2 separate regions of the Homo sapiens genome follow, and region 1 is linked to region 2. Evidence: fine-mapped expression QTL. A gene starts in region 2. The other region holds a variant in brackets. All regions are shown on one strand. Distances are between the middles of the regions.

Evidence for each region. PIP is the estimated chance that this variant, and not a neighbour inherited with it, causes the effect.
Region 1: its variant is the best candidate, but not a certain one, in a credible set for the expression of AKAP12 in whole blood (TOPMed, PIP 0.78).

Annotation. Positions count from the first base shown.
Region 1 is chr6:151,354,465-151,362,464 of GRCh38, forward strand. It overlaps AKAP12 (A-kinase anchoring protein 12), which reads left to right. Exons shown (of 5, transcript NM_005100.4): 5 at 1,263-4,095. Among named protein-coding and RNA genes, the nearest start is that of ZBTB2, 33 kb to the right of the region's middle. RefSeq lists an enhancer at 324-825. The variant G/C (reference allele first, on the strand shown) is at 3,999.
Region 2 is chr6:151,232,633-151,249,452 of GRCh38, forward strand. AKAP12 (A-kinase anchoring protein 12) reads left to right here and starts at 7,335. Exons shown (of 5, transcript NM_005100.4): 1 at 7,335-7,427; 2 at 7,752-8,092. The coding sequence starts at 7,931. RefSeq lists enhancers at 7,138-7,647, 7,725-8,302.

The sequences.
Region 1 (8,000 bases), 120 kb after region 2:
CCAGGTTCACGCCATTCTCCTGCCTCAGCCTCCCGAGTAGCTGGGACTACAGGTGCCCGCCACCATACCCAGCTAATTTTTTGTATTTTTAGTAGAGATGGGTTTTCACCGTGTTAGCCAGGAGGTCTCGATCTCCTGACCTCGTGATCCGCCCGCCTTGGCCTCCCAAAGTGCTGGGATTACAGGTGTGAGCCACCACGCCCAGCCCTATCTTTGTTTTGTTTTTTGAGAGAGCCTTGCTGTGTCACCCAGGCTGGAATGCCGTGGTGCAATCATGGATTGCTGCAACCTTGACTTCCTGGGCTAAAGCAAATCGCCTGCCTCTGCCTCTGTCTCCTGAATAGCTGCTGGGACCACAGGCACATGTCATTACTCCGAGCTAATTGTTAAATTTTTTTGCAGACAGGGGTCTTGCTATGTTGCCCAGGCTGGTCTCAAACTCCTGGCCTCAAGAAATCCTCCTGCCTCACCCTCCCAAAGTGCTAGGATTACAGTCGTGAGCCACTGTGCTCAACCCATCTTCGTTTTCTTTTGTTTTGTTTTGTTTTTGAGACAGAGTCTCACTCTGTCACCCCGACTGGAGTGCAGTGGCGCAATCTCAGCTCACTGCAACCTCAGTCTCCCAGGTTCAAGCGATCCTCCTGCCTCAGCCTCCTGAGTAGCTGGGATTACAGATAACACACCACCATGCCCAGCTTAGTTTTGTATTTTTAGTAGAGACGGAGTTTCCCCCAGGATGGTCTTGAACTCCTGACCTCAAGTGATCTGCCCGCCTCGGCCTCCTAAAGTGCTGGGATTACAGGCATGAGCCACCGCACCCAGCCCTATCTTTGTTTTTTGTTTGTTTGTTTGTTTTTGAGACAGAATCTCGCTCTGTCGCCAGGCTGGAGTGCAGTGGCACAATCTCAGCTTACTGCAACCTCCACCTCCTGGGTTCAAGCGATTCTCCTGCCTCAGCCTCCCGAATAGCAGGGACTATAGGTGCATGCCACCATGCCCAGCTTATTTTTGTATTTTTAGTGGAGACAGGGTTTCAACATGTTGGCCAGGATGGTCTCGATCTCTTTACCTCATGATCTGCCCTCCTCAGCTTCACAAAGTGCTGGGATTACAGGCATGAGGCACCGCGCCCGGCCCCATCTTTGTTTTTTTAATGGAGTTAAACTATGGTATTATTAGGTCACTTTGACAACTATCCTGTTGTTAATAAATGAGAGAGAAAAAGGAGATTTTATTTACGCTGATTCTTCCTCCTCCTACAGTTAAACTCATTGTCTGTTTGGAAGACCAGAATGTGAAGACAAGTAGTAGAAGAAAATGAATGCTGCTGCTGAGACTGAAGACCAGTATTTCAGAACTTTGAGAATTGGAGAGCAGGCACATCAACTGATCTCATTTCTAGAGAGCCCCTGACAATCCTGAGGCTTCATCAGGAGCTAGAGCCATTTAACATTTCCTCTTTCCAAGACCAACCTACAATTTTCCCTTGATAACCATATAAATTCTGATTTAAGGTCCTAAATTCTTAACCTGGAACTGGAGTTGGCAATACCTAGTTCTGCTTCTGAAACTGGAGTATCATTCTTTACATATTTATATGTATGTTTTAAGTAGTCCTCCTGTATCTATTGTATATTTTTTTCTTAATGTTTAAGGAAATGTGCAGGATACTACATGCTTTTTGTATCACACAGTATATGATGGGGCATGTGCCATAGTGCAGGCTTGGGGAGCTTTAAGCCTCAGTTATATAACCCACGAAAAACAGAGCCTCCTAGATGTAACATTCCTGATCAAGGTACAATTCTTTAAAATTCACTAATGATTGAGGTCCATATTTAGTGGTACTCTGAAATTGGTCACTTTCCTATTACACGGAGTGTGCTAAAACTAAAAAGCATTTTGAAACATACAGAATGTTCTATTGTCATTGGGAAATTTTTCTTTCTAACCCAGTGGAGGTTAGAAAGAAGTTATATTCTGGTAGCAAATTAACTTTACATCCTTTTTCCTACTTGTTATGGTTGTTTGGACCGATAAGTGTGCTTAATCCTGAGGCAAAGTAGTGAATATGTTTTATATGTTATGAAGAAAAGAATTGTTGTAAGTTTTTGATTCTACTCTTATATGCTGGACTGCATTCACACATGGCATGAAATAAGTCAGGTTCTTTACAAATGGTATTTTGATAGATACTGGATTGTGTTTGTGCCATATTTGTGCCATTCTTTTAAGAACAATGTTGCAACACATTCATTTGGATAAGTTGTGATTTGACGACTGATTTAAATAAAATATTTGCTTCACTTAGATTTGCTGGTTTTATTAGATACCAGGAAGCCTGGGACATATGTGTACCACATTAGAATTCTAAAGATAATGATTGATAAGCTAGAACTTTCTGATGTAGTCATTACATGAAACCCCTTGTCACTGGTTTGTGTGTTCAGAGGAAGCCATGGCCGAGATAGCTTTCCTGAAATAAACCAGTAGCTTTTCAGATTGACGTTCTTGCTACAATTGTACCATCTGGTAATTCCTGAAAATGTCAATTTTTTTGTGTTAATATTTTTGGTTTCAAACAATAACAAATGTCTCTAGAAAGAAATTTTAAGAAAGCTTAATTAATAGTAAAAATGCCTTTCCTGAAATAATCTTGGAAAATTTTTTAAATGTCAAAATGATGAGTCATGCTAATACATTGAGGGTTTGTTTTTTTGTTTGTTTGTTTGTTTGTTTTTGAGACAGAGTTTCGCTCTTGTTGCCCAGGCTGGAGTGCAATGGCACGATCTCAGCTCACCGCAACCTCCACCTCCCGGATTCCAGCGATTCTCCTGCCTCAGCCTACATTAAGGGTTTTGTCAGACAATTGTCACACGAAGAATAGTGTCACTTATCTACTCTTGACACACAGAACTGGCCTGGCATATAGCTTTCCAGATTTTACTCAAACTTGGTACTCCAGTTTGAAAATTTAAATTTTGACTGCTGATTAGCTGGAAAGCCTAGTTTTAATGGAAAGAAAGTTTGCTTTTAAAACTGAAAGTAGTTTCTTTTTGCTAACAAATCTAACTTCATACATAATTGGCCATATTAGTAAAACACCTCATGATAGCAGTGTATATATAGTCTTGTTTGTAGTTGGAAGTCATCTTTTAGGAGTTATTCTCAAATATATATAATAGCTACCCATGCATCATTATTAAAATCCCCAAATTCAAAAAACCTCTGATATATATATATAATTTTTTTTTTTTTTTTTTTTTGGCCAACTGAGATTGAAATCCAAGTGCTGGTTTCTAGTTCTGAACATCAACTAAAGAGTTTTGGAAATGACAGCAATTTATAACAAGTTCATATTGACTTCCTCTCTATGGCAGGAAGACATTCTGTGCTGTTTTGAACAGATTAAAGATTTGTGTAGTTTGTGGGAAATTGACGTTTTTGTTTAAATTCCACCCGCGTTTGTCTTTTCCTACCACCTGTGGCCAGGTGCTCGCTGGCCATCACAGTTGCGATTCCATGAGTAGCTGCTTTATGACTGCTTTTTGTACTATCTGGATGTGCCCAGAGTTACTTCTGTACAAGCTCTGTATCTATGTCCGTTGAGAACATTATTTTAACAAGAAGAACACCAACAGTAGCATGAAATATAATACTGTTTTATAATTCTAAAGCTGCTGTTAATTTATGAAGTACATAATAATCTAATGTAAACTGCAGAAGTCAGAGCAAGTGCCTACATTTTGTTATTTTTGGCATTACTACAGAGCCATGTACAATAGAAAGCAATGCAAGACTTGTAAACTCTCACCACTTCTTGTAATATCAAATGTTCCCCCTCAGGTTATTTTGCTTATGGTACCCATGAGTTGCCTCTCTCTGTACATAGATAAATTGTTCCAATATTTTCCTTTGATGTTTGGAACTACAGATAGTCAAGGGCTGGAAATTTTAGTTTTCAATATAAGCTTCCAGCTTAGCAATTACCTCTAGTC[G/C]AAGACAATATTTGATTCCTAGTTCTGTTTGGGGCAAATTTTCATTTATCTAAATAAAATGCAATCTAATTAAATGCCATGGATTTTCTTTCTGTAATTTCACTGTGATTCAGTTTCCATTGCTTTTCTCTTGTCTGTTGTGATATTCGTCATACATTTAAGCTCTGCTTTTAACTACTTAGCACCCTTTGTTCATAGAGCATCATGAGAGTTTGGAATGAATGTATCTAGGATAGGCGTGAGTCCACAAAGATCTCTATTCATGATCATAACCTTTTTGGGTCCTGGGCTCCTTTAATTAGAATCTCATTAAGCTTCTAGCTGACCTCGGACTCCCCAATATAAAGTTTTATGTACAGTTTTTGGATAGTCACACAAACCTTCTCTGAAATGCCAACCAATAACCAGAACCAGAGTTAGAACCTCTTTCTCCAACCCTGTAAGAAAGGAAATGGACGCAGTCCAAGGATTCCCAGATAGTAGCAGAGCTCGGAACCGGAACACAAAATCAGTGTCACATAAATTCAAATCTACATGACTATTTCTTTTAAACATTTATTTGTATTTTGATTTCATATTTTGTAGAGATGGGGTCTGGCTCTGTCACACAGGCCGGAAGGCAGTGATGCCATCAGAGCTCAGTGTAACCTTGAACCCCTGGACTCAAGGGATCCTCCCATCTCCTGAGTAGCTGGGACTACAGGCATGTGCCACCATGAGATGGGGTCTTGCCATGTTGCCCAGGCTGGTCTCAAACTCCTGGGCTAAAACAATTCTGTCTCGGCCCCCCAAAGTGTATTCTATTTTTTTTTGTTTTGAAATCCTAGTCAAGAATAGAGAATTATATACATCCATGTTTAATAGAGATGGGGTTTTGGTATGTTGCTTGGGCTGGTCTCAAAATCCTGGACTCAAGCAATCCACCCACCTCAGCCTCCCAGAGTGCTCAGATAACAGGCATGCGCCACCACACCTGGCCCTATTCTTTTTTAAATGAAAGTCATACAAATTTTATTAATGTGTACCTGGGAGCCTTCAGAATGAAGACCCAAAAATGCAGGGGAAATTGTCCATTTTAATATAGGTTCAACAAAGTATGGACGTGGAGAAATATGACTGGACAAAAGGGATATGATCTAATGCTAACAGACTGAGTGGGGAAACACAGCAAGGCCTGTCTGTCTAGATTCTTCTTGGTCTCTCTGAGCACGCATTCCTTCCTTCCGGGCATGGGGCATGGGGCAGGACGCTCTCTGGAATCAGAGACTTGTGACTTCAGTTAAACAACATGACCATTTTTTTCTTTTTCTTTTTCTCTTTTTTTTTTGAGACAGAGTCTCACTCCATCACCCAGGCTAGAGTGCAGTAGTGCAATTGAGGCTCACTGCAACCTCCGCCTCCCAGGTTCAAGCAATTCTCATGCCTCAGCCTCCTGAGTAGCTGGGACTGTAGGTGCCCACCACTATGCCCAGCTAATTTTTGCATTTTTAGTAGAGACGGAGTTTTTCCATGTTAGCCAAGCTAGTCTTGAACTGGCATCAACTGATCACCCGCCACAGCCTCCCAAAGTGCTGGAATTAGAGGCATGAGCCACTGTGCCCGGCCATGACTATTCATTTCTTTTTTTTTTTTTTTCAAGACGGAGTCTTACTCTGTCACCCAGGCTGGAGTGCAGTGGTGCGATCTCGGCTCACTGCAACCTCCGCCTACCGGGTTCATGCCATTCTCCTGCCTCAGCCTCCCGAGTAGCTGGGACTACAGGCGCCTGCCACCATGCCTGGCTAATTTTTTTATTTTTAGTAGAGACGGGGTTTCACCGTGTTAGCCAGGATGATCTTGATCTCCTGACCTTGTGATCCACCCGCCTTGGCCTCCCAGAGTGCTGGGATTACAGGCGTGAGCCACCGTGCCTGGCCGACTATTCATTTCTAATGAGATTCTGGAAATGGATCTGCTGGTCACAGACAACCTGGTATAACTTTGATACAAATGCGAGCTTCTCCTAACAGATTGCTTATTGTCTCCAACCTATATAATTGGAATTAGGAAAACAAGCTGAGCCCTTCTTTTAATATGAGAAAGCTGAGACTTTGAAGTGATAACACAGGTTGGGCTAAGCTAACCAGGATCTGAAGATAGCATGGTGGTGAAAATCATCATGATTTATTTATTTGAGAAAGGGTCTCACTCTATCACCCAGGCTGGAGTGCAGTCATGCAATCGTGGCTCACTGCAGCCTCAACCTCCTTGGCTCAAGCAATCCTCCCACCTCAGCCTCTACAACACCCACAGGTGTGCCCCACCATGCCCAGATAATTTTTTATATTTTGTAAAGACGGGGTCTCCCTATGTTGCTTAGGCTAGTGGTCTCCAACTCCTGGACTCTAGCCATCCTCCTGCCTTAGGCTCCCAAAGTGTTGGGATTACAGGTGTGAGACATCTTTACTGTAGTATTCTACAGTTATGAGTGAGGTCTTCTTGCAACTGTGCATATTCTTCTTCTATCACCTGTCGACATTAAAAGTTTTAACAGGAGAAGGGTAGTTTAACATGTAACCTTCAAGAGAGGCTTCACTGAGTATAACACCTATGTTTAGAGACCAGAGGTAGAATAACAATACCTAAATGATGAAATGAGGACCTAAGTCTAATGTGCCCACAAAAGAATATTGAGTACTAAAGCCCAGTGCTTAGTCTTAACCCTGTGTTTTTTTATTTGTTTTAATAATCTCAAATAACTAGGTATAATTAATGAACAAAGAGGCAATACTCTAAATAAGGCTAATTTTAAAACCACATTGTGCTTGATTCTACTTATCCCTGTGACCCTCAGGGGCTTACCTAATTCTTGGAAAAGTAGATGGAATTGCCTCTAGAATCTGAAATCTAAACATAACTAGGGTCCTTCTTAAAGACTATAGAAATAATACTGCAGAGATGGCCAGGGGGCCATTTCAAGATATGAGATTTATCCTACAAAGTCATTGAAATAGTTTGGCAGGGAAAAGATGCAATCCTCTTACCGTAGTGATCCGCAGTGTTGGGCTAGTGAAAGGTCCCACTCTCCACCCTGGTTTGTGCTGCCACGTGTCTGGTTACCACAACGGCTAGGATGTTACGGTATGTAATGAGTTACGGCCACAGATGTTTGACATCCTGCATGGCACAGAAAAACCCTGCATAAGACAGATGTTTCTACCTAAAATGTCAGTGGCATCTATCTTGCAGAGAATTGAGGCCTGGAGGTTGAGAGGAGGTCAGTTTACATGCTGTTAGAATAATCCAGGCAAGCTGGGTGTGGTGGGATGCAGCTGTAGTCCCAGGTAGGAGGCTGAGGTGGGAGGATCGCTTGAGCCTAGGAGTTCAAGATCAGCCTAACCAACACAGGGAGACTCCTGTCTCTTAAAAAAAAATAAAAAATACAATTAATAAAAGTTTAAAAAAAGAGAATAATCCAGACAAGAACTGATAATGGCCTATATTAAAGTAGGTGCAGTTTGGCTGGAGATCCGTGGGTGAGATCAAGAGCTGTTAGGAGGCAGATCGACAGGGCACGGTACCTGATTATCTTCTGTGGGAACTGTGGGGTGAAGAATGAAGTTTCTAGATTGCCAACCTGGATGTGGAGGCACATACTGACATGAGCGTGGAGGCAATTTGAGAAACCTAAGAGATATCCAAGAGTCAGTGGAGTTGGCAGCTCAGTATATGGGTCTCACAAACAATTCGGGACAGAGAGACAACTCTTTTGCCTCCTCTGTGTCCTTAGAAACACATAGAAGACAATCTACAAGATGCTTGCATCGCTTCTTAATAGCTCATGTGCAAACTTCAGCTTGGTGACTGAGAAAGAGTTCACCTGCCCTGTCTCAGCCATTCCTCATTTCAGAATGTGTAACTAAAGACTGTTCTTCACAAGATTTTCCCATTGTGAAAGTGCTTTATAAACGAGGAAGCAAATGTACCGTAAAGCATTAATATCGGTAACTGCAAGAGAAAGAC
Region 2 (16,820 bases):
TGGCAAGATGAAGCCAAGGAGTGAAAGGAGCTTTGTACAAAGCACTGCAGAGTCAGGAAATCTATTGTTTCTGTATTTTATCAAGTCTGATTGTTTCAGAGTTAACAAGCTTACAAGCAAAACAAAATACCAACCTGTTAATAAGGTGTTGATCTCTATCTTGGCTTATTTTAATATTAAAAGGGTATTTCAAATATACTGGAAAGTGAAGGAGGTTGTAAGTTGAACATAAACAGGTACCTTGGACCTTTATTTTAGCCCGTCTGAAAATACATATTTTATCATTCTTTTTCAGAAATTAAAATTTTCATTTTGAGTTAATTGTGGATTACCATGCAGTTGTGAGAAATAATACAGAGAGATCCCGTATACCCTTCACCCAGTTTTCCCCAATAGTAACATCTTGCAAAAATAGAGTGCAATATCACAACCAAGATATTGACATTGATACAGTCAAGGAACAGAACATTCCCATCCCATAAAAATCCCTCTTGTTGCATTCTTACAGCAACACCCAGTTCTCTCCACCCTCTACCCTTCTTTAACCCTTAGCTACCACTGACTTCTTCATTTCTGTAATTTTGCCATTTCAAGTCTGTCATATAAATGGGATCATTTGTATGTAACCTTTGGGGATTGACAGGTTTCTTTCAGCAGAATTCTCTGGAGATTCATGCAGGTTGTTGCATATATTAATAGTTTGTTTCTTTTTATTGTTGACTAGTATTTCATGGTATGGGCAGATCAGTTTGTTTAACTAACATGTTGAAGGGCATCTAGGTTTTCCATTTTGGGGCTATTTCAAGTAAAGCTGGTATAAACTGCATGTTCAAGTTGTTACGTGAAGCTCCAGGAGTGTAACTGTAAGGTCATATGGTATGGTAGTTGCATGTTTCTTGTCTTTTTTGTTTTTTGGCTTCTTAGTTTTTTAAGAAGCTGCCGGCTAGGCACAGTGGCTCACACCTGTAATCCCAGCACTTTGGGAGGCCGAGGCAGGCAGAACACTTGAGGTTAGGTGTTCGAGACCAGCTTGGCCAACATGGTGAAACCCTGTCTCTACTAAAAATACAAAAATTAGCTGGGCGTGATTTGCGCCTGTAATCCCAGCTGCTTGGGAGGCTGAGGCACAAGAATCGCTTGAACCTCGGAGGTGGCGGTTGCAGTGAGCCAAGATCGCACACCACACTCCAGCCTGGACGACAGAGTGAGACTCAGTTTAAAAAAAAAAAAGAAGCCGCCAAACTGTCTTCCAGAGTGACTATGCTATATTACATTCCCACCAGCAGTGTATGAGTGATCCAGTTTCTCTGCAGCCTCATCAGCATTTGGCGTTGTCACTATTGTTTTCACTTTAGCCACCCTGATCATTGTGTAGTGATATCTCACTGTGGTTTTAATTTGCTTTTCCCAAATTGCACACAATTTATTTGCCACCTGTAGATCCTCTTTGATAAAATGTTGCTTCAAGTATTTTACCTGTGTTCTTGTTGATTTTTTGTTTGTTTGCTTGTTTTTTTACTGCTGAGTTTTAAGGATTCTTTCTATATTTAGATACTAGTCCCTTGTGGGATATGTGGTTTGCAAACATTTTCTCCCAATCTGTAGCTTTTCTTTTCATCTTTTCAACTGGGTCTTATGTAGGACAAAAGTTTTAAATTTTGGTGAAGTCCAATTTATAGTTTTTCCTCTTATGGATCATGCTTTTTGTATCAAGTCTAAGAACTATCCTGCTTAGCCTTAGCTTCCTAAGATTTTCTCCTGTCTTTTCATTTTTTTTGTTTTGAGACGGAGTCTCGCTCTGTCTCCCAGGCTGGAGTGCAGTGGGGAGATCTTGGCTCACTGCAAGCTCCGCCTCCCGGGTTCACGCCATTCTCCTGCCTCAGCCTCCTGAGTAGCTGGGACTACAGGCTTCCGCCACCATGCCCGGCTAATTTTTTGTATTTTTAGTAGAGACTGGGTTTCACCTTGTTAGCCAGGATGGTCTCGATCTCCTGACCTTGTGATCCGCCCACCTCAGCCTCCCAAAGTGCTGGGATTACAGGCGTGAGCCACCGCGCCTGGCCTTCTCCTGTCTTTTCTAAAAGTTTTACAGTTTTGTGTTTTACGTGTAAGTCTGTGATCCATTTGTAGTTAATTATTTTATCAGATGTGTGACATAAGTCAAGGTTAACTTTTTGCCCATGAATGTCCAATTGCTTCAGCACCATTTGTTGAAAGGCTGTCATCCACCATTGAATTACTTTTGCACCTTTGTCTTTTTAAAAAATACATTTATTTATTTATTTATTTATTTATTTACTAGTGACATCTCCATGTGAATACTTTTGAGCCTTTGTCAAAAATCATTTGGGCATGTTTATATAGGTTTATTGCTATTGTTATGATTTTAAAAGCATTTAGCAAGCTAACTTAAAGGAATACAAAATAAACATTAGATCAGGTTATCCACCTTTCCTTTGTGTATTGCTAGTTGAGATGTTTATCAATTCACAACCTAATCTTTTTTTCTTTTTTATTTTTTTTGAGACAGAGTCTTACTCTTTCGCCCAGGCTGGAGTGCAGTGGCGCGATCTTGGCTCACTGCAACCTCCATCTCCCAGGTTCAAGCAATTCTCCTGCCTCAGCCTCCCAAGTAGCTGGGATTACAGGCGCACACCACCACGCTTGGCTAATTTTTGTATCTTTTTAAAGTAGAGACGGGGTTTCACCATGTTGGCCAGGCTGGTCTCAAACTCCTGACCTCAGGTGATCCACCCGCCTCCGCCTCCCAAAGTGCTGGGATTATAGATGTGAGCCACCGCACCAGGCCACAAAGGGATTTAAGTTGGTAGAGGAACATAAAATCTACAGTTCACATCGTATAATATATTGTATAATAGCTTTGTTTTGAGTGCGCAATGTTGACTTATTGAAGCAAAGTTTCCAACTTTGAAAAGTCCTCTGCATTTTGCCTGGCACTCAACTCAGTGAAAGTTTATTTAATTAATATGTGAAAAATATATATTTTAATGTTGGATACTTATAGGGTCCTTTGTAGAAGGGATTTGAAATTGTGAGGATTACAGCCACTTGATCTACCCTGGAATGTAGACACCTTCCACATACCTTCTGGTATCTTCTAACAGTGCATCCTGAGAAATTCTTTCTCCATATTGGACACATCATTTACTCTATCTTGGTTCCAGTCCCTCCTTTGTTACTTGAGAGTAATCCTGAATTTGAGTCAGGCACCAATCTTAAACCTTGGTAAATGAAACTGAGATCCAAATAGCTGGCTTTATACTTAACTCCAAAGCAATAAATTCCTTAAGAGTTACAAGGATAGCATTTGCCTATATATATATACGTGATGTATGTCTACAAGCGGCTGAGCTTTAAACTTCATCTGTAAATTGAACATTTTCTGTAGCTTCCATATGAATTTTAGATTATTAAGTACTCATGAATTGAATACAACTGTTAATTCTTCTAGTTTATAATTAGCAAATTATAATTAATGCTCTAAAATAATCCGTCTCAAATCCTCACATAGAAAGTAAAATTCAAATAATTTACTCACAGTTTCTTCCATAGACTTCTCAACAGGGTAATAACATTATTCTTGGTTATTTATTTTCCAGGCCATGTAAATGTTAATATTCTTATTTGTAAAAAGTAAAATCATATCTTAAGAGATGCATGCGCACATTCTAGTACTCTCTATTCTGCCTGAAACAGCTCTGTGATAAGGGAGTATTAAGAATAACAAATTCACACGAGCACAAGATAGAGTGGGAATTAGGTTCTTAGATGACTGGATATCTCTGTGGGAACAACTGGTTTAGAAAGAAGTAGGTGTTTTATCCAGGGAAAACAAAGAAGTTATAATCAAGAGAGAAGCAGTTTCAAAGGTGAAGGTGAAGAGTTGCCAGTCTCAGCGAAGGCTTTGTAACTAGAGAATGAATCTTTAGGGTAGAGTTAACGGTAGATTTTAAACTGTTTTAATAATTAAAATTATTATTGCACTTTGAAGGGGGTGTCTGAACTCAGTTGTAAAATGTTTGACATTTGTGAATTCCTTTAATGTTATATTTGAAACTGTTTTGGTGCATGCACAAGGTGCCCAACTATGACTCTACATTTTATTGTTAAACCTCATGTGACCCGTCTTTCTGGAGAAGTATGTGTGCGAAGTACAGGTTCAGCCTGCTACACAGGCAACATGTATTTGTTTTTGAGAAATCTCAAACTGTGTTTATGAGAGAATTAACCCTCTCAGGGAAACAGCTCTACCAACGACTGCCCCATGGGAGAGGATGTGTGGGGACACCTGCATCCTGCTATTTGGAGAAAAATTGAGCTGCTGGTGAGACATTGAACCAACAGCCTTGGACTGAGAAGTGAAAAATAGAGAACACCTGCCTCCCCTCTACTCTGATGCCAATCCAAGCAATTCCGAAGGCATCTTGGAAGCCCTAGAAAAGAAAACCTCAGTGACTCGATTTAGAACCTTGGAAACTAGAGTGGTAACTTTGTGCTTGGCACATAATAGGTACTTGATAGAAATTTATTGAAAGAAAGAAAGAGAAGAAGGAAAGAAAGAAAAAGAAAGAAAGAACAGAGAAGAAGGAAAGAAAGAAAAAGAAAGAAAGAAAGAAAAGTAAAAAAAGTAACAAACTTTGTAGCATTCTGAAGCACTAAGTGGCATACCCAAAAGGTTGGGCTATTTCATCGCTAGAGGTCATTAATAACACAACCACTTTTCTTTTCTTCTCTTTTTTTTTTTTGAGACAGGGTCTCACTATGTCATCCAGGCTGCAGTCTGGAACTCCTGGGCTCAAGTGATCCTCCCGCCTCAGCCTCCCAAGTAGCTAGGACTACAGGCATGCACCACCACTCCTGGCTAAATTTTTTTTTATTTTTTGTAGAGATGGGAGTTTCACTGTGTTGCCCAGGCTGGTCTTGAACCCCTGGTGTCAAGCAATCCTTCCACTTCAACCTCCCAAAGTGCTGGGATTACAGGCGTGAGCCACCGCGCCCAGCGCAATGATTTTACTTTTTACAAATAAGAGTATGAACATTTACATGGCCTGGAAAATAAACAAAAAGCAAGTAACTGCTAATCTAAGCAGATGCTGATATCTTCCTCAGCACGTAGGTTGTACACTGTTGGCTTGACCCTGCAATCCTTTCTGAAAATTTAAAGGGTAGTAGATGTGAAAAGCTTTGCTAAGAATTTCCCAGGAACAAAGTAAATATAATCTCACAGAATGTGAAAATGTTGATAGTATTTGTGCTACTTACTGATACATTTTCAAATGTGCTGACGTTAATCATTCTCAAATAGTTTTTTTTTTCTTCTTCTTTTTTTTTTTTTGGGACGGAGTCTTAATCTGTCATCCAGGCTGGCGTGCAATGGCATGATCTCAGCTCACTGCAACCTCCACCTCCCAGGTTCAAGCAGTTCTCGTGTCTTGGCCTCCTGAGTAGCTGGGATTACAGACACGCGCCACCATGCCTGGCTAATTTTTGTACTTTTAGTAGAGACGGGGTTTCACCATGTTGCCCAGGCTGGTCTTGAACTACTGTCCTCAGGTGATCCACCCACCTCGGCCTCCCAAAGTGCTGGGATTACAGGTGTAAGCCACCACACCTGGCCTCAAGTAGGTTTTAACAGTGCTTTTTGCTCTTAAAATCCTAAGTGAGGTCCAAATGCCACGTTTCAGTAACACCTCTGAGAGGAGAGAACACAGTTGATTGAAAGGGAAGGGGAGTGCCATGCGGTGGTGAAGCGTGGACCCTGAAAGCAGATGCCAGTTGGACTTCCTGCTCTTCCAACTCCTGGCTGTGAAACCTGAAGCACACAATTTAATTTCTCCGGGCCTACTCCTCCCCCTCCTGCCAATGGTAAAATGAGAATAATACTATCTATCCCATGGGGTTATTGTAAAGATTATTATGTAAAGTGCATTGAACAGTGCCTGGTACAGAGTAAGAATTCTAATGTTTCCTAAATAGTCAAAATTTAAGTCAAAATGGGGGAAATGTGTATAAATTCCTAAAACTAAGCATTTTGCAAATATACTGTTTCTTAAGAGATAAACTCCAGAGAAATTGGCCTTCGTGTAGTCCTTTAAATAAAAATAATTAATTCAGAAAACAGGCCCAGTGTGGTGGTTCACACCTATAATCCCAGCACTTTGAGAGGCCAAGGCAGGAGGATCGCTTGAGCTCAGGAGTTCAACACTAGCCTGGGCAACACAGCGAGACCTTGTCTCAAAAAAAGAAAAAGAAAAAAAATTAATTCAGAAAACAAATTTGATGGTGAGTAACTAACCTATGGTTCCCAGGGTACCATTCGATTCATGCAATTCATTAGGCATGAAACATCCTAGTGCTGAACTACTGCTTACACCCTTTCTACAAAATTGTACTAAATCTGAGTATGAGATATTTATCTGGAATTTGGTGTGAATATTCCGAAAGTTTCTTCCTTCTTTCTTTCTTTTTTTTTTTTGACAGAATCTTGCTCTGTCGACTAGGATGGAGTGCAGAGGCACAGTCATAGCTCACTGCAGCCTCGAATTCCTGGGCTGAAGTCATCCTTCTACCCCAGCGTCCCCAGCCTCCTGAGTAGCTAGGACTACAGGTGCACCACTGCGCCTGGCTAATTTTTTTATTTTTTGTAGAGACAAGGTCTCGCTATGTTAACCAGGCTGGTTTCTTCATTCTTAATGGAGATTCAAAGTATTTGTGAAAACTGGGGCACTCGGTTGCTAGTTACAACTGGAATAAATTTTGTCTTTCAGCCCCAAAGCCTTAATGCTTTGCGCCAAGCAATCCAGCTACAAATTTAATTTAGTTCAAATACTTATTGATTGGCTGCCATGCTCATGTAATACATATTATATTCAAGGGTCGGAAATGAAAGGATGCAAGCCACTTGTGCTGGTATTATTTAAAGTCTTCATCTTTTGAGAAAGGCTGACGGCAAAGGAACAGATCTATGCTGTCATGTGTCGGCATCGCGCGGAGCAGAGGTGGCCTGGATGGGTAACTTCCAGCACAGGCCCTCAAAGAAGGACGGGCACATTTCCGGTAACAGCCTCATTTCCCCCCGTTCCCCGGGGGAAGGGGGGCGGCTAGCACTGCTGATGGCATCGCCTGACATCACTTGTTCCGGAGGATAGGAGAGCGTGGGCCTGCGTGGCCCACCTCATCCGTGGCCTGACTGCGTTAACCTCTCGGTTCCCTGCTCTTGCCACGTGAGGTGCCCAAATATGGTCGGACTCAGGAGGAGCCAGGGAGCGCTTGCCTTTCTCCTGCTAATGGGGAGGAGGCTGGAACAAATGTTTGGAGTTAAACACAATCTGCAGGAAAGCAAATGGGGACTCGGACTCGCTCCTGGGCGAGCTGAAAGTCGGCTGCAGCAGAAGCTCCTGCCTTGGGTGATCCATCATTTAATAAACCCCAGAGAATCCAGTGTCCCCGGCAGGCTTTTTGCTCCCCTGCTCTCTTGCCTTCTGAGGCCCTGGGTCGTCCCCGCAGCTCTAGTCGCCCTGTTAGAAACGGGAGGCGCCCGAGGGCCGGGTGGGCGGCTGCCTGGACCTGGGCTGGCGCGTCGCAGCGCCTCTGGTCCCGGCAGCCTGGGGGCAGATGCTGCTGCAGGGCGTGTCTGGGGCTGTGCTCATGTGATGAAGCGAGGGAAAAACCGGGGGGAGGGGGGCGGAGGCTAAGAGGTGGCCTTTTTTTTTTTTTCCTTTTCTTTTAAGGAGTTTGCCGCGAGCGCGTCTCCTTCATTCGCAGGCTGGGCGCGTTCGCAGTCGGCTGGCGGCGAAGGAAGGCGCTCTCGGGACCTCGCGGGCGCGCGTCTTTTGGCTCTTGCCCCTGTCCCTGCGGCTTGGGGAAGGCGTAACCCGGCGGCTAGGCGCGGGAGAAGTGCGGAGGAGCCATGGGCGCCGGGAGCTCCACCGAGCAGCGCAGCCCGGAGCAGCCGCCCGAGGGGAGCTCCACGCCGGCTGAGCCCGAGCCCAGCGGCGGCGGCCCCTCGGCCGAGGCGGCGCCAGACACCACCGCGGACCCCGCCATCGCTGCCTCGGACCCCGCCACCAAGGTACGGGCGTGCCGGGCCACCTGCGCCGGGAGGCGCGGGTCTTTGGGGGTGGGGGTGGGGGTGGGGGGGTCCCTCCGATTTCCGCCGAGAGAACTTCCCAGCCCATCCAGCCGCATCTGCAAACTCAGGAGTGCGAACCCCTCTTTGGAGGCTTTTCAGGGTCTTTCGCGCCGGGGCGGGGCCAGAGCAGCGGCGAGCGCGGCGGGGGGCTTGCATCTTTGTCGCGGGTCTCCAGGGGAGGCGACTGCGCCATGCGCAATAATAAAACCCGCGCCCTGCCCACGGCGGCTGAGCCTTTCTGCGCACTCTTCCGGTGGGAGCCATGCAGCCCGAGGCGGAGGAGCTGCGCGGAGGGGGATCCGTGGAGAATGGACCCCGGGCCGGGCCTCCGGAGCTCCGAGATGCGGAAAGTCAGCTGTGAGGCCAGGACTCGTGGTGGAGCCCGCCGGGGAGCCCAGCCACCCTCGGGTTCCCCGTCGCGTACCGCCCTGGATGCCAGCGGTGCCTGGAGCGAGCGGGTTTGGTACCCAGTCCTCCTGCGGCAGCGGCCCGAGCAGGCACCGCCTTCCCGAGGCAGAGAAAGCCTGGGGTGTAGCTCGCTCAGAGCCAGGAAAAACCTGGGCAGGCGCTGCGTTTCCAGAAGGAATGACAGGTTTCGCAAACCAGCCAGCGCCCTCGCGTTCGCTCAGCGCTTTGCCTGCAGACTCAGTTGGCCAAACACACGCTAGAGTGGCTAGAAGTTCTCAAAGGATGGGGTCAGTGTAACGAGCATTCCGGGTACTCTTCCCTGGACGCAGTGCTGAAACGACTGCATTTTATCGGCTTCAGTCTTCAAGGCTGGAATATTTCTTGTGGGCCAGGACAGCCGCCAAGACTGTGGCTTGTTCTGGTCGTGGTATTTTAGATCTATTTTCCAGCGCATGTGTTCATTAGCAAGGCTTCACTCTACTGATTTTGTGATACCCTTGTATCACAAAGGTACCCTTGTGATACCTTGTAGAAAGATGTGGATAACCATGTTTAATAGTTAAATTTGCGGTATGTCAAATTTGAGGATAGAGTACGTGAGTTATCGCAGGAGGTGTAGATGTTTACAATATGCAAAAAAAAAAAAAAAAAGGAACCTACAACCATGACCTAATTGCCTTGACCTCCTTAGCTGCCCTAGTCTCTTTTGGGCTGAGAGACTGCTGTTAATAATATAGTTTTTACCGCCAGTCTTTGATTCATAACTACTTGTAAAATCCATGGTCCCTAGATATTAAGTACTAACTGTGTCTCTGTGCTATGTAGGTTTTTCTAAGAGATGCTTAAGCTTCTGGCCTGAGGAATGTACTGTCCTTTTGAGATTCAAGTCGCATTTTAATACTTACTGTATGCACATAATGTTTTGATGCCAGCTACTGTCAAAGTGGCTCTGTAACCAGTGGTCAGAGTCTAGCGATGAAAATAATTTTAAGGTATAATTGCTAAAAACTTGCAGTTGGGTGACATTCCCCCCACCGCCCCGGCTTTTATACTCCTTCAGATCTTACTAACTGTTCACCCTGAAATATGGGATTTAATCCCTTCCCAGTAAACTTGAATTTGTTTATTTAAAAATATTCCTTCCATTCTCTTTTTCCGTCTTCCATAACCTTATCCTTTTCCTCTTTCCAAGTTGCCAACCGTCTTGAAGCAACCAAACAACCTCCTTTTAAAAAATCACTTAAATGACATCCAGAATATCATTGAACTTGTTGGCATAATGCCCAGTTATCAATTTGGAGACAAATCAGTGCACTTACATGTATCCTTGGAATGTATTTAGTTTTCATTTGAACTAGCCAAATTTATCACTCAGGCTTTGAACACAAATGTCTTTTCAAAAGGACTCCCCAATTAAGAATGACTCAGCACCATGGCCCTTGCCTCCCCTCTTCTTGTTAAGCTCCAATTCCTGACCTCCAAGTAATCCCATCTCCCACTCTAGGCTCCGTGGCACCATGGACCCGTCCCAGCAGTTTTCACATGTGTGGGTTTAGTGTTCTTGCTGTTGTGAATACTTCGCAGGGGCAGGGAACACGCCTGGTTGTGCCGACCAACGGTGTTCCTTCATGCGTGCCATGTTGCCTGGCACAGAGGCAGCTCTCAGGAATACTTGTGGAAAGAGGAAGGGGTGATATTGGCTCCTTGGTTTTGATTGGAAAATATCAAGTTGGAGAATACCTTGACCTATCTGATTTTACTACAATTTAACCCTTGATCATTTCATTATCACGTGAGACTGATTATGATAGTGACTAAGGCAAGTCAGTCTGTTCGGTTATTAATAGATCAAGTGAATAGTTTGACCAAAAACTTCAGATTTGGGGGCTTTGGATTCTGTTTCTCTAGATATAGAGTGACTTGTTAGCATTGCAATTTCAAATTGCGTTTTATCTTAAATAGACAAATATATGAAGTGCATATGGCTCAAATGAGTCCATTTCATACCCTGAGTTACTTAGGATTACATCTTGAACTTCCTTGATGTGTCTGTGGACGGTTGGGGAGGTTTAGGCTAATACATCATTTTTCCCTCCTTGGATAGAATGTGGTCATTAATTAAAGGTTGTAGGCAGATCTTTTTCTATCTAATAGCTGACATTTATATCACATGCATGCTATCTATTTAGCAATTGGATTTACTTTCCTTTTTTTCTGCTAGTTTTAGTTACCAGTTATTCACTAAGTGCCCTTATCTGAACAGACATTACACTGGTTGAATTATCACTTGTATTAGGTCAAATGGAGAGTTAAACAAGCTTTTGATTACTCAGGCTTAACGTTTAGATGCACTAAAGCAGAAGTCTTGGTTTTATCTATGGTTCATTTCTGTAAAATGGAAGGAGTCTTTATCTTCTATTCAATCTTTTGTAATCTTTATTTTTTCCGTTAGATCCAGAGATAGACTGGAAATCTTTTACAGTCTTTATATGTAAGATCCAGGCGGGGGCAGGGGGAATGGCTTGGTCTGTTATCTGCCAGGGTTTAATTTTGAGACATGGCCGTTTCACAACTGCAGGGTGCGGGAAGATTAGATGACCTGAATGCTGGTGGTAAGTAAAGCCTCACACTTCACATTATTCCTTAATTGTCTGTTTTTAAAAATTTGTCTTAAAAAAATATTAAGGTGGCAACATATTCAGGTGGCAACAGAGGGTGGGGTGACCAGTGACAAACTGACTTCCATGTCTCTGGCTAATCTTGATTTCTGGAGCCAGGCTCCAGACTAAGTCTGGACAATCAATTAATTAGCCTTTCTATATGTATTGCCTGATGAATGATTTCAATGCTGGACATTGAACAATGGTCTGTTGCAACAGGGTGAGGCCATTGTCTCTGGCAGGTGGGGAGATGGGGGCTCTTGTTAGCTCCATTTGATTACAAGAGCCTTGAATCACCAAAACATAAAGATGTACTCGAATAGAAGAGTCCGTTGTCTGACTGGTAAATTTAAGGATGTGTTTGACCCTCGTGCATTAAAACAGACAATTGGCCGGGTGCGGTGGCTCACGCCTGTAATCCCAGCACTTTGGGAGGCTGAGGCAGGCAGATCACAAAGTCAGGAGATCCAGACCATCCTGGCTAACACGGTGAAACCCCATCTCTACTAAAAATACAAAAAATTAGCCAGGCGTGGTGGCGGGCGCCTGTAGTCCCAGCCACTCGGGAGGCTGGGACAGGAGAATGGCGTGAACTCGGGAAGCGGAGTTTGCAATGAGCCGAGTTGGCGCCACTGCACTCCAATCTGGGCAACAGAGCGAGACTCTGTCTCAAAGAAACAAACAAACAAACAAACAAAACCAGACAATTGAGGCGGCCAGCTGCATTTCATAATTCCTCCCATAAGCTTCCTCCTATTTGCCACTTGTTTAGCAATGGAAATGGAGAACGAAGATGGCCTCAAAGTGACTACATCACCAGTGTTACAAAAATGGGCCAGAATTTAAGGCAAGAATTATATGTTTCTTAATAGAGGGATGTTTCTCTGTGTGTGGCTACTTGTATTCCTGTGGATTTTTACCAGATTATAAGAGCTGCTAATTTCTGATCAGAACAGAGACCAAAAATTGGAGATATGGATGTGGGGATGATTCTTTTGGGTACCGATAGACTGCAGGAATCGCAGGGCTTCCTTTAAATCCATTACAGCTTATAGGCTAGTGGATGAATAAGATAAGTGGAGATTTTCTCTTGAAATATTTCCTTCTATGAAGAAAAGGCCTTGAAATGTGCATCCTCTTTGGGTTGACTAATTTCTATGCCTTTACAGCTTTAAGCTGACATTATAAGATTATTCTAGTTTGGATCTTGTAAGATAATTAACAAAATGGAAATAAAATGTTTTGTTTTTAAAAATGCTAATAAATTATTTATTTTCCTTTGTCTTAGTTAGTTTTAATACATATTCAGTGCTTAAAGAACACCAGTGCAGGAAAACTCAAACTAAATGGCATCATCCCCCATCTCTATAATTCTATATGCAGTAGCCATTCATGCGAAGTTAGAAATTAGAATTTATAGCACTAAGCATTCTAAGAAAAATTAAGCCAGTACGTTTATCTCTTGAAAAAAAAAAAAGCAACTAAATTTCCTTGAACCGAATTCTTTTTTTTGGCTCACTGCAACCTTTGCCTCCCAGGTTCAAGCGATTCTCCTGCCTCAGCTTTCCGAGTCGCTGGGATTACAGGCACCCACCACCACGCCCAGCTAAGTTTCTGTATTTTTAGTAGAGATGGGGTTTCACCATGTTGGCCAGGCTGGTCTCAAACTCCTGACCTCGTGATCCACCCGGCTAAGGCAGGAGAATGGCGTGAACCCGGGAGGTGGAGCTTGCAGGGAGCCGAGATGGCACCACTGCAGTCACCACTGCAGTCCAGCCTGGGCGACAGAGAGAGACTCCGTCTCAAAAAAAAAAAAAAAAAAAATCAAAAGCATGTGTTTACCCTTATTAATGATTTTTATTTAAAGTCATTGCATAGCAATATTCATTTAATGTTTATTTTTTAAAAAAATTAATGATTGAGAACTTAAATTTATAAGTAGGGTAAATTACTCACAAATTTAAGTAAAATTTGAAGCCAATATGATGGCTTCTTACATATTCTTTCGAAAACTTCATGCACATGAAAGTAGATAAAAATGGCACAGTCTTTTCCATTTAAGAAAAAGATCATATCACATATAGATTTAGGTTTTGGATGTCTTTTCATATCAGGACATAAATAACTGCCCCCATTCTTATTAATTTGGGTGCATAAATTTCCCTTTTGTGGGTTGAAGCCCTGTAACGATTTAACCAATTCCTTGGGTTTATATTTAGATTGTCCTCGTCCATAAGTGTAATTGCTGAATTGCAAGCTTTATATGCATTTAAAAATTTAACCCGGCAAGGTGCGGTGGCTCACGCCTGTAATCCCAGCACTTTGGGAGGCCGAGGCAGGTGAATCACAAGGTCAGGAGTTCGAGACCAGCCTGGCCAACATGGCGAAACCTCGTCTCTACTAAAAACACAAAAAATTAGCTGGGTGTGGTGGCAGGTGCCTGTAATCCCAGCTACTTGGGAAGCTGAGGCAGGAGAATCTCTTGAACCTGGGAGGGGGAGGTTGCAGTGAGCTGAGATCTCACCACTGCATTCCAGCCTGGGTGACAGTGCAAGACTCCGTCTCAAAAACAAAAACAAAAACAAAAACAAAAAATTTAACCCTTCCTAAATTGACTTTCCAAAGAGGTTCTACCACTTTGCAGTTCCACCGTGGAGATCAGCACTCGTTTTCCCATGCTTTGCCTTCATGGGTATCAGATTTTCCAATACTTGCCAATGTGCTAGGTGAAGAATGGTACCTCAGTTTCCTTGGTGCATTTTTAACTGTGAAGTTGAATGCCTCATCATGTTTCTCTGCCATGTGCTTGCCATCTGATCATGCACTGGTCTGGCTGTCAGAGCATGAAAGGCTATGGTTTGTTTCACTGTTAATTAATTTTCATTTTCATTTTCATTTAACTTTAATTTTATTTATTTATTGTTTTTGAGATAGGCTCTCATTCTGTTGCCCAGTGTGGAATGCAGTGGTGCAATCTTGGTTTACTGCAGCCTCGACCTCCTGGGCTCAAATGACCCTCCTACTTCAGCCTCCTGAGTAGCTGGGACTACAGGCACACACCACCAGGTAGCTGGGACTACAAGTGCACACCACCATGCCTGGCTAATTTTGTTTATTTTTGGTAGAGACAAGGTCTCACTGTGTTGCCCAGGCTGGTCTGGACCTCCTGGACTGAAGTGATCCTCCCACCTCTGCCTCCCAAAGTGCTGAGATTACAGGTGTGAGCCCCCATGCCCTGCCCAATTAATTTTTAAAGATTTTTTTTTCTAGCCAGGTGTGGGGGCTCACACCTGTAATCTCAGCACTTTGAGAGGCCAAGAAGGGAGGATCACTTGAGAGAAAGTTCAAGAGTGGCCTGGGCAACATAGCAAGACCCCATCTCTACAAAAAATAAAAAATTTAGCTGGGTGCGGTGACGTGTACCTGTAGTCCTAGCTACTTGGAAGGCTGAGGTGAGAGGATTGCTTCCACCCAGGAGTATGAGGCTGCAGTGAGCTATGATCATGCTACTGCACTACAGCCTGGGTGGCAGAGCAAGACCCTATCTCTATTTAAAAAAACAAAACAAAACAAAAAAACAAAAAAACTTTTTCCCCAGAAATTAATCAAATTGGAAAAAAGCAAGTTCAAGAATAAAAACGCAGCTGAGGTAGAGCAGTCTTACTCTCCTTTGCTCCTTTTCCTTTCCAAATTAATGAACCATCTTTAAATTTATTTGCTTGGAGGATGACCTACTTCTTTAGCTATCACTTTTAAAATTTCTTCTCTTGGAACAATCTAAAATCATTTAGTTGCCAGAAATTACTTTGTGGTCATGATCCGTGAAATGTTGAGATCAGGGATTGGAAGCAGCAGAAATCCACCTCTTGGGAAAACAATAGAGTGAAGGCTTACCCGGGATCCTCTCCCGTTCTCACGGCAAACAGCCTGGCTCTGTTAACTGGATGGTATACATGGATTTTCTGAGAAAAATGTAGGTGTTCAAAGCACAGGAAACCATCTGGGACACCGGGACACCATTAGGCACCTCTTAATACAAGTATTCATTTCAGGTTCAAAGCTTTTTGTCTTCCCTGTGATTTCTCTGTGATGTTTTTTAAATGGGGGAAACCCTGTAGTTTCTCTCTGCCTAATCTTAATCCCAGTTGTAGTAGCATGTCAGTTTCATGTTTGATTTCAAAACGAAATAAACCAAAATTTAAGAAGGAGAGATTACTGCAGTTTATTGGCTGACCATCTATTTGTTATATGCAAATACTGCAAACTGGGAGTATTGAAGGATTAAATTTTTCCTAATTCCCAAACCTGGTGGTGCTATTGAATCACCTAGAGAGCTTTTCAAAGACACCCCTACACCTCATCCTGGATTTATTGAATTAGAATCCCAGGCAATCTCAGGGTCTGGGATTCTGTGATTTTTTTTTTTTTTTTTGAGAGACAGGGTCTCACTGTGTTTCCCAGGCTAGTCTTGAACTCCCGGACTCAGGCCATCCTTTGGCCTCAGCCTCCTGAGTAACTGAGACTACCAGCTCCTGCCACTGTGCTGGGATTCTGTAGTCTTAAAATGCTCATCAGATATTCTAATGTGTGGGGTGTGGGCTCCATTACCTTAAGGGAGGGGAAGGAGTAGGCGTAAGAGCTGAATAAGGGCCAGGGAGAGGTTCAGGTCTAGGTGACACTGGGTGATAGCATGTGCAGATTTCACTGAGATTGGAACTTGTGTGGGTGAGAGGGACGGTTTCACATGATGAAAGAGTAGCATTTTCCTTCACACATCTGGAGGATAAAATAAAGGAAAATATTTCTTCCACATAATTTCATTCCTTTGTTTGACTATATTAAAAAGTGGGTTGCTGGCCGGGCATGGTGGCTCACGCCTGTAATCCCAGCACTTTGGGAGGCCGAGGCGGGCGGATCACGAGGTCAGCAGTTCAAGACCAGCCTGGCCAACATGGTGAAACCCCATCTCTATTAAAAATACAAAAATTAGCCAGTATGGTGGTGTGTACCTGTAATCCCAGCTACTCGGGAGGCTGAGGCAGGAGAATCGCTTGAACCTAGGAGGTGGAGGTTGCAGTGAGCCGAGACCGCATCATTGCACTCCAGCCTGGGCGACAGAGCAAGACTCTGTCTCAAAAAAAAAAAAGTGGATTGCTAACGGAGGCTTTTTAAAATAGATTGTGCCATTCAAGGTAAGTAGGTGTTCAGTGAAATGCCCGTATCCCTACTGAGCCAGAAGCTGTGACTTTTCGGTGTTCCCCTTCCATCTCATTGCCTCCTAAGCCCTCTTCCCTTATTTATCATTTTAAAACTTCCCTTGTGCTGAATAAGTAGACAGTAGCTAAGGGCTTAGTTTATGGCATTTGACTGGTCCAAAAATCTGTAAAGAAATTTTAAAACCTACCAAGTTGTTGAAGAATAGAGTTCTGGCTTTCTCAGCCACTTACTATTCAATCTTGATTTCATAAATATTTCTGTTTTAATTTCTTCCATTTATTTTTTAATATAATAGAGACAAGGTCTCACTGTGTTGCCAAGGCTGGTCTCGAACTCCTGAGCTCAAGTGATCCTCTTGCCTTGGCCTCCCAAAGTGCTGGGTT